Linked DNA regions of Homo sapiens. The protein of the gene in region 2 purifies or fractionates together with the protein of the main gene of each other region. This does not show direct contact. Each region holds a gene or a part of one and is shown on either strand. Other genes may lie near its edges.

Region 1 (5,327 bases), on a different chromosome or scaffold from region 2:
AGGGATCCTTCCCTGACACCCACAGCTGTCTGCATTGACTTCCAACATAACTCGTAACTCAATGAATTAAACAGCTGACATGTCTCCCCACTGGACTCCCGATGCGAAAAGCCAGCATGCAGACAGATGCCTTCCACCCGGGCCCTAGTGTCCCGCACGGAGGAAGTGCTCTGAGAAGGGGATAAATGAACACATGATCTGTTCCAAGCAAAACATCCCTCCTCTGTGGCAGCTTCTCCAGTATCTCCACAGGGAAGCAAAACCCACAAAAGGCCAGAGTGGAGAAGCCAACAGACACTACCTGGTGCTCAAATGAAAATCTGGCGTAGTGGCTCACACCTGTCATCCCAGCACTTTGGGAGGCCAAGGCAGGCGGATCACTTGAGGTCAGGAGTTTGAGACCAGCCTGGCCAACATGGTGAAACCCCGTCTATTAATAATACAAAAAAATTAGCCGGGCATAGTGGCGCATGCCTGTAATCCCAGCTACTCAGGAGGCTGAGGCAAGAGAATCACTTGAATCTGGGAGGCGGAGGTTGCAGTGAGCCAAGATCGCACCACTCCACTCCAGCCTGGGTGACAAGAGCCAAACTCCGTCTCAAAAAAATATCCATGGAGGCAGATATTTTCTTCTCTCCATTTTTTTAACTTTCTCCCCATTCCCTACCTTCTCTCAACTGCCTATCCCTCCCCCAGTTTTACAACATGAAATGAAAACAGCAAATCTCTCTGAAGCATGTTTTTATTTCTCTGTGATTTGGTTTTCTACTTTGGTACACATGAGCTGTGGCTGCATTTCACACAGAAGCTGACACATCTCGCAGGAATGCCCCATAAAACAGAGCGCAAACAAATCACCCAGCAGGTTCGCTTCACCTGGCTGTTACTGCTGAACTCCCTACTTCTAAGAGCACAGAAGAGAACATCGCTTTGAATCTACAGATAAGCGAGGGTGGGGCGAGCAGCAGCCAGGGCTGCCGGGATGGGAGCGGCCACAGACACAGGCCCCCGGGTGTCTGTCTTGAGATACAGGTGGAGAAGCCGCCCAAGAAATTCCAGCAAGATGGGAGCAGCTGGGGGATGCTCCAGCACAGTAGCCTGCCTATAGGACTCCTCTGGCTCCCTCAGTCCTGGTAGATTCTGGCATGACACCAAGGCCAGCAGTGCTGGCTCTTGGCCCTGTCACTGTGTCTGTTTTATCCTGGGGCCCCACAGCCCCTCTCCTGGGCAGGAGCTCCGCCCCTCCCCTTTTCATCACCCCCTTGGTCCCCAGCAAACCCACAGCGAGACCTACACAGGTTTTGCCCAGCTCTAAAATGTCTTGCCCTCAAAGGCCTGGAGATTGAAGGCAGTATCCAGAAACTTCTTCAGTGACACCAGGTGAGTGTTCCTGTTTCCTGTGGCTGGTGCAGCCGCTGGGTCCCGGCCAACATACCTGGAGGAGGAGAGACAAGCTAAGGGGAAGGCGGGGCCTAGCCGCCCCCCAACCGCTGCCCTCACTCCGGGACTGCAGGGGGCACGCATCTGAGAACCGCTGACCTCGAAGCCATAGACCCTGCCTTTTGGCCCTGGCACCACTTCCAATGAGCTGCAAAGCCCGGATCAAACTCAGTCACCTAGCCACAGAAGAGTGGGGAGAAACTGTCCCTCCATGTCACTGCACTTGCCCATGAGGACAACAAATGAGGCAACAACTCAAAGACTTTGGGGACAAACATACTTTTGGCTTCTTGGAGTTTCTCAGGACCCTCTCCCATCTTCCCAGGAACACATGATGCCAGTATTGGGAACGCACCATGTGCCAGAGCTAATACATACATCAGATCTAATCTTATCACCGCCCTTTGTAGAGATGCAGGGACTAAGGCTCCAAGGACTACATAACCGGCCTAAGATCTAAGGCAGGAGTTTTGAGACATGTAGCAGGTTCCTTAATACAGTTCTGGCTGCAGAACAAACACAAAGCCAGTACTGATGATGCCCCATCATTGCTCATCACCAGAGAAGGGCAGGGCCAGTTCTGGGTAGCATGGCCTATGGGACAGATGGAGCCAGGACAGAGCCTCAGGGCCGAGGTGAGGGGCAATCAGCGGCCCCACCATGTACCATATGGGCCGTGCGCGCCTCAGGATGGTCATGAAGCGTGGGCTGATGTAGTCATAGTAGCCCATGTTCTTGTGCTCCTCCTGACACCAGGCCAGCTCCGCACCTGGGTACTTCTCTGCCTCCTGCTTGATCAGGTCGAAGGGGAATGGAGAGATCTGGGGAGGCAGAAACAAAGGAGCATAGCCAGAGGAGGGGCGGTATGTCCCCAGCACCCCCGGACAGGAGGCACAGGGCCTCACCGGCCTTCATCTGGCCTGCCTGGCACATTGGCCAGAGCCGGGGCCAGCGACGTGAGCTTGCCCATCACTTGACTGTACAAGGGGTTCAGGCACACCTGCTCCAGGCGCGTGATGGCCACTTTCTCCTCCAGGTCCTGGCTGCTCCGCTCCTTCACCAGGTCATAGTACACCTTTCCCGTGCAGAAGATGAGCCGCTGCACCTGCTCAGGGGCCCGTGCTGCGGCCCCATCTTCAGGAATCACCCGCTGGAAGCTGGTCCCTGAGGGACCAACAGGACATGGCAGAGGCGTTGGTACCCAGAGGGGCTGGGGCAGCTCAGGACCAGGCCTGCATCCCCAGGCTCTCCTTAGCCACTGACACTAACTGCAGGTTTGGACTTGTGGCTGCAGTGGACACCTCTTGAACTAAAAGATGGAGCAGGGGGCAGATGACACCCTGAGCTGTCATAGGGAGAGGGGTGGAGACACCCAAGGGTTGAGCCCTGGAAGCATCACGTTTAAGGTGACCGGAGGTGGGGGTACAATAAGAAGCGCCCTGAAGGAGACAGAGAAGGCAACATGATGGCATCATCCTTTGCCCCAACCTTGCTTCTGCCCAGCTGCGCCCACCTCCTGCAGAGCACTGCAGTCCCCCACCACTAAGCAGATGTCCCAGGAGGCTGCTGCATGCTCCTCCTCTTTCAGCCTGGCAGCTGAGCTTCACCTCCAAGCCCCAACCATTCTTCCTTCCTGAGCCCATGATCCTGACCCCAGGTCACGCACACTGCAAAACCTCTCAGGAAGCTACTGTAGTGTCCTCACATCCCTGCATCTCAGGTGAAGACTCTGGGGTAGAGAGGACAAATGGATCCCAGGCCCTCAAGAGAGAAGCCAGCACAGGGCAGGTAGCCCAGGTAGTCCAGTCCCGACATCAGAGCTCTAACAGCTGCCCACCTGCACAGAGGGGACATCCAAACACACATGGGAGAAAATCCAACCCCTGTCCATGCTGAGGCCCTTCCCAGCCCTCCCTCTACTGCCCAGGACCATTTTCCAAGACAGCTCTGCTCCACCAGCCTCACACCTGTCCTTCCCTGGACATAGTCACCTCTCAGTTGCAACTATAGTGTTTTATCTGATCTGACTCCCAGGGAAATAAGGCCAAAGACTCCTGGAGGGGACACCAGGACCCCAGGGCCTGTAATGTCTGTTTGGCTCATGAATTTTTAAAATGGACAAATGAATGAATGATACTCAATATCTTGCGAACTCAGCAGGCCTCTGCCAGGCCTCGACCAGCCCTGCTAGGGTCTAAGGGGGCCCCAGTGGACTCTACCATGGACGCAACCCACATGACCTGAGCTGGCCCAGGTCAGCCATTGTGCCAACCTCCCAACCCTACTGCTAGTGGGACCATGCCAGGAGCTGCTGCAGGTCAGCAGAGCCACAGGCAGAGGGGAGGTTGGAGAAGCCCCAGAAGCAGAAGCCACACAATGGGCCACCGCCCCATTGTGGGCTACCCCACACACCCAGGCCAGGCACGTACCGGATACCATTTGGTCAAAGCTGGACTTGGCCTCTGGGTGCCTCAGCAGAGATTTAGGTGTGAAGATAATCAGCTGGAAGGGAAATACACGCCCAGCTGCCAGCTGGCCCTGCCTGGCCAGGCCCCCTGCCTGTGACCCCTGCCCTGGGACGGAGACTCACCGGCTTGCGGAAGGGCAGCAGGATCTGCCGGCGCAGCACGTGGAAGTAGTTGGCCGGTGTGGAGCAGTTGACCACGATCCAGTTGCAGTCATAGAGCTGGCTCACCTCGAAGTCCTTGGTGAATGCCTGTGGGGACGAGATGCATATGGCCAGGGTGGCTGTCTGCTGCACCCACACCCTGGACCCCTAGCCCTGTGGGCACAATAGGGCGCGTCCCTGTCCTGGGGACAGCAGCAACACTCACAGGGTAGGCATCCGAGTCATCATTGCTCATCTGCAGGAACCTTTCGGGCCTCGCTGACGAGTGCTCTGGGCCCTGAAAGCAAACGCCAGACAGCCAAGGCTGGACCCCACCATGGGAAAGACATCTGGCCCTGCAGGGACCCCAGGCTCAGGGGAAAGTCTGGAGGGCTTCTCAGCAGAGGTGCCCTCACCCTGGAGCCTGAACCATAGAAAAGAACCAAGAATGTGGAACAAGAGCAGAATGGGAATCCTCAGAGTGGGGTCTGCCCAGAGCTAGCACAGTATGTGAACTTGCAGGGACAGAAGAAAAAGCAAAAAGCCCGCACTGAGACGTGCTTTCTCTGGAATGTCCTGGAACAGTGGCTGCCACTGACTGAGCACCTGCTGTACAGGAGGCAGAGTTCTAGGAATCCCACACGCCTTATCGCTAACCCCCAAAGTAGCCCCATGATGCAGACACTCTTCCCCACTGCACAGATGAAGAGGCAAGGAGAGGGTAAGAAACCACCCATGACCACACAGCCAGGCAGGGGCCAACCCAACTCGGCCTGGGCCTCGCCCACCCTCACCCACACGGACCGCTCTGCTCCATGAAAGCAGCAAGACAAGCCCAGGGGCATCTCCAAGCCAGCTCCTGCAGGACGGGGATGACCCACTGCACAGCTGCCACTTGCCCTCTCTTGGTGGGGACGGCCAAGGACCCAGCCCCCCACACCCAGCCTGGCCCAGATCTGGCCTCCCAAGAAGCTGCCTTCACGGCAGGCAGCCCCAAGCAGGGAGCCTCACCTCCCTCCTCACTGATACCCGGTGTTGTGAGGATGCCGAGTATGCAGCCTGTAAAGTGCTCATAACATGCCACTCAGGGATAATGGTGGCAATGAGCCCCCTGCCTGTCTCCCTTCTGCCTGGTCAGGCCACCTGCCCACCAGATGGTATCACATGACACCCTGCTCCTTCCTCCCTTCCTGCTAGCCCAGGAGCCTCCGGAGGATGCACCCAGCCTGCATGTCTTCCCTCTGCCCCATGTGTGGCTGCAGAGGCAGGTCATACAGGA
Region 2 (4,081 bases):
ACCTAGTCAGAGCTGTCACTCCTCTGCCCAGTGCCCACAGACCCTCTGCCCACTCCCTTGCTTCTCTCAGCTCAGCTCCTGGGACTCTCCTCTCACTCGTTCTGCTCCAGCCTTTTTATAGTCCTCGGGCACTCTTGACATGTTATCCACTCCTGGGCCTGTGTGCCTTCCCCCAGCCTGAGGCACTCCTTCCTCAGAAATCTCAGCTTCCTCAGGCCCTGCTCACATTCCACCTTCTCTGGCCACACAACTCGAAGCATGGAGTCCCCACCCTCTGCTGCACTCCCCTCTCCACCTCAGCTGGCCTGCCTTTCTCCATCCACCTCAGCAAATTTGCTGTTTCCTTATTAATGTATTCTCTCTCTCTCCTTCCCAACAGAAGGTAAGCCCACTGAGGGAAGACTTCAGTCTATTTTGTTCCCTCCGGTGCCAACTGGGATGGGTGCCTGGCACACAGGGGGCCTTCAGGAAATACCGATTGACCTTTCACCTGCTTCCTTAGCCTTTTTCTGGCTCTGGGCCCCAGAGTCCTCATCCCTATACTTAGCCCCCAAGAAGAGAAAGCACTTGCTGTTGGTCCCAACCTTCCTTCCTGCTCAGTCATCATCCTCATGCCCCTGACTCTGGGCCCAGGAGCCTCTCCTCGCCTTTGCTGTCTTTCCTTCCTTTGCTCTGCTGTCCCTGCCCTAGTAAGACACCTTCATTATATTCGAAGAGCAGTGATGAAGACTAACTTCTTTCCTTCAGTGAAGCATGTTCCTAGAGAGTGGTTTTCAGATACTTTTTCACTTATAAGGTGGATTCTTAAGTGGAAACATAGTTTATTTTTATTAGGTTGGTGCAAAAGTAATTGCAGTTTTTGCCATTTTTTTATGGCAAAAAACTGCAATTACTTTTGCACCAACCTAATAAAAAAGATTAAAGCTCTCAGCTGTTCTAGTTCAAAAGAAAAGGAGCCAGAGGCCACCCATGCTCACAGGGTCCTCACAGTAGCAGCTCTGCTGGACTCTCAGCTTGCTGAATAGTTAGAAAAAGGGAAAAAACCCACACTATTCTAAGCTAGTATGTACAACCCACATGACCATCCCAAAACTGTGTGACTTGTAGCTCCTGTCTCTTGGCATTGCCTGGCTGGCATATAGACAGTATTTGCTGCCTGTGGAACCCCCAGTCCTTTGGAGGCTGGTGATAACCTAGTTCACAGTTCTTCTGTAGGGTGGTAATAACCCAGAGTAACCTGCACCTGAGAATCAACCAGCTCTCCCTAGCAGGGGCATTCCTCACTTTATGTTTTTATAGTAACCCACTCAGATGTTTCCTTTTACTCTATATCATATATTTCAAATTTTAAAATCACTTAAATAAGTTGGAAACAATCAAAATGTACAGTAATAGAAGAGTGTTTAAGTAGTTCTGATACTTGCATGTAGTAGAAACAATGACTAAAGGGTGGGCATGGTGGCTCACAGTTATAATCCCAGCACTTTGGGAGGCTAAGGCAGGAGGATCACTTGAGCCCTGGAGTTCAAGACCAGTCTGGGCTACATGGTGAGACCTCGTCTCTACAAAAAATTTAAAAATTAGCTGGGTGTGGTGGTTTGCACCTGTAGTCTCAGCTACTTGGGAAGCTGAGGCAGGAGGTTTGCCTAAGCCTGGGTGGTCAAGGCTGCAGTGAACCATGGTCACGACAGTGATACTCCAGCCTGGGCAACAGCAAGACCCTATCTCAAGGCCAGGCACAGTGGCTCACACCTGTAATCCCAGCACTTTGGGAGGCTGAGGCGGGTGGATCACCTAAGGTCAGTAGTTGAAGACCAGCCTGGCCAACATGGCAAAACCCTGCCTCTACTATAGAAAAAACAGCCGGGCATGGTGGTACATGCATGCAATCCCAGCTACTTGGGAGGCTGAGGCAGGAGAATCGCTTGAACCTGGGAAGCAGAGGTTACAGTGAGCCAAGATCACGCCACTGCACTCCAGCCTGGGCGACAGAGCAAGACTCCATCTCAAAAAAAAAAAAAAAAAAAAATTAATCTCATGCTGACTGCAGAGGCACCCAAGGATGAGGAAAGGCTGGTACACGTTATTTTCCTGTTGAGGGGACAACCCTGGGCAACCTTAACAAGGGCTGCCTTCTCAATGCTTCTCTAAGATTGTACCTCAGAAGAACTGATGGGTTCTCCTGATATAAAGCTTGTGACCCATGGGTCTGGGAAACCTGGAGATGAGACTGTAGGCTTCTCCTAAAAGGAATGAAAATGAGAGTCTTGCCCAGATTTTAAAGATATATTGTTGGAGAACTATGCAGCAACATGGTCACACTACAAGGCTTTTCACTTCCAAGCATGGTTGTTAATATCTTTTCTTGACAAGTGAAAAATCCCTTTACAGAAAAAGTTACTCATCCCCTGCTATTGATAGAAGTTTAAGGGTTCTTTCTGTCTAATCCTGGAGAGATTAGAAGCAGGCCCAGCTGTGAAACATTTGCAGAACCATCAGCCCTGACTGCTGTCTGTCTGCTTGAATCTCTAAGCAGCATATTCTAAGTAAGAATAATCTTACAGAAAAAGCAAACAGCACTTAAGAAAGTGATCAGTATTATAGGCCATGATAACTAACTGCTATGACCATTTCTGTTTTTTACTGTCTAGTTTATGGAAATTTTATAGTACCTACTTTTCTATGCAGTGTTTAAGGGTGATTAAATGTAAGATATTTGGACATTTTAAACCAATGAAGTATTTTAAATAGACTGGTTCAGGGACACGACCATGGCAGTTTTGCTTTATTCACGTTGTTAAATGGGCTTGCTGAGTAACTCATGTGTTGGTCTAGATGTAGCACATTGAATCCACTTATCAAAACACTGTATCCCTAAGCACTTGCCACCTGTGGGAGAAAGTATTTGAGACACTGAGTTCTGCCTAGAGTTGTATACTTTGTAGACCTGAACTGAAGCCCCTGATGGAATAAGAGAGTTGTAACCTCAGGCAGAGGGGAGGGAACAGACAGGGGGCTGGTGAGGTAGGAGAGTAAGAGTGAAGAGAACCTGTCCTCCTCAGGATCCTGGTTTTCTGTGAGCCTGCTTTTATCTGGGAAATCTTTAGACAGCATTACTTCCCAAGGGTTAAACTTTAGGTGGGTCCTAAAACTAGGGGTTTTATATTCTTCATTTTCTCCTTCCTTCAGTCACTAACAGCTGCTAGGTAAGGCAATATAAGAGCTTTTTTAAATTTATGTTATTTTTAGCCCTTTACTGCTAAAAACATTAACAAATACTTTTAGAGATCCATGTGACAGTAACTCAAAAGATTTAACAATGATGGCTATTGGCGTGTCTTCCAAACGTATAATTTGGCCTTTGTGGGTGGCATTTTCAGTGTTGTGAGTGCACAGTTAGGGCCCCAACATGTAAGAATATATTTACATTGTGTGTTCTTTTGTTTGGTTATGACAATATTTGTTCTTATGACAATATTTTTATTTTCTATATAATAGGTTAAAGGTTATTGAAAATGAATTGATACAGGCATCAACAAAGAAATTTTCTTTGGAGAAGTTATATAAAGAGCCCAGCATTTCTAGTATACAAATGGTGGATTGTTGTAAGAGACTTCTAGAACAATCACTGCCTTACCTACATGGGATGCACCTCTGCATTTCACATTTTTACTCTGTTATGCAAGATGGAGACCTTTGTATTCCTTGGAATTGGAAGAATGGAGAAGCCATTAAGTAACACAGAAATCTGTTTTATTTTTTTAAGAGATAAGAAAGGAACTTAAATTAAAAATATTTAAATCCACAATTTGATATAACAGTATTATTTACATAAGAACAAAGTTTCTAACTGCTGCTTTAAAAGTAGACTTTTTTAAAAAAATTAATTTCTGCTAGGAGAGGTTTTATATGCCAGGCGTGGTGGCTCATGCCTGCGGTCCCAGCTACTTAGGGAGGCTAAGATAGGAGGATCACTTGAGCCCAGGAGGCCAAGGTTGCAGTGGGCCCAGATTGCACCATTGCCCTCCAGCCTGAGCAACAGAACAAGACCTTGTCTCAAAAAATAATAATGATAATTTAA

Evidence for each region. The genes of interacting proteins can lie anywhere in the genome.
Region 1: the proteins of TCAIM (region 2) and OGDHL purify together in Homo sapiens (affinity purification with mass spectrometry; one large-scale study listed by BioGRID and IntAct). This does not show direct contact.

Annotation. Positions count from the first base shown.
Region 1 is NC_000010.11:49,733,917-49,739,243, forward strand, and holds the end of OGDHL (2-oxoglutarate dehydrogenase-like, mitochondrial), read right to left. Parts: intron 4,347-5,327; coding exon 4,275-4,346; intron 4,157-4,274; coding exon 4,031-4,156; intron 3,943-4,030; coding exon 3,870-3,942; intron 2,605-3,869; coding exon 2,441-2,604; intron 2,262-2,440; coding exon 2,107-2,261; intron 1,436-2,106; coding exon 1,312-1,435; 3' UTR 725-1,311; downstream 1-724.
Region 2 is NC_000003.12:44,403,944-44,408,024, forward strand, and holds part of TCAIM (T-cell activation inhibitor, mitochondrial), read left to right. Parts: intron 1-3,498; coding exon 3,499-3,739; 3' UTR 3,740-4,081. UniProt on the Homo sapiens protein: May regulate T-cell apoptosis.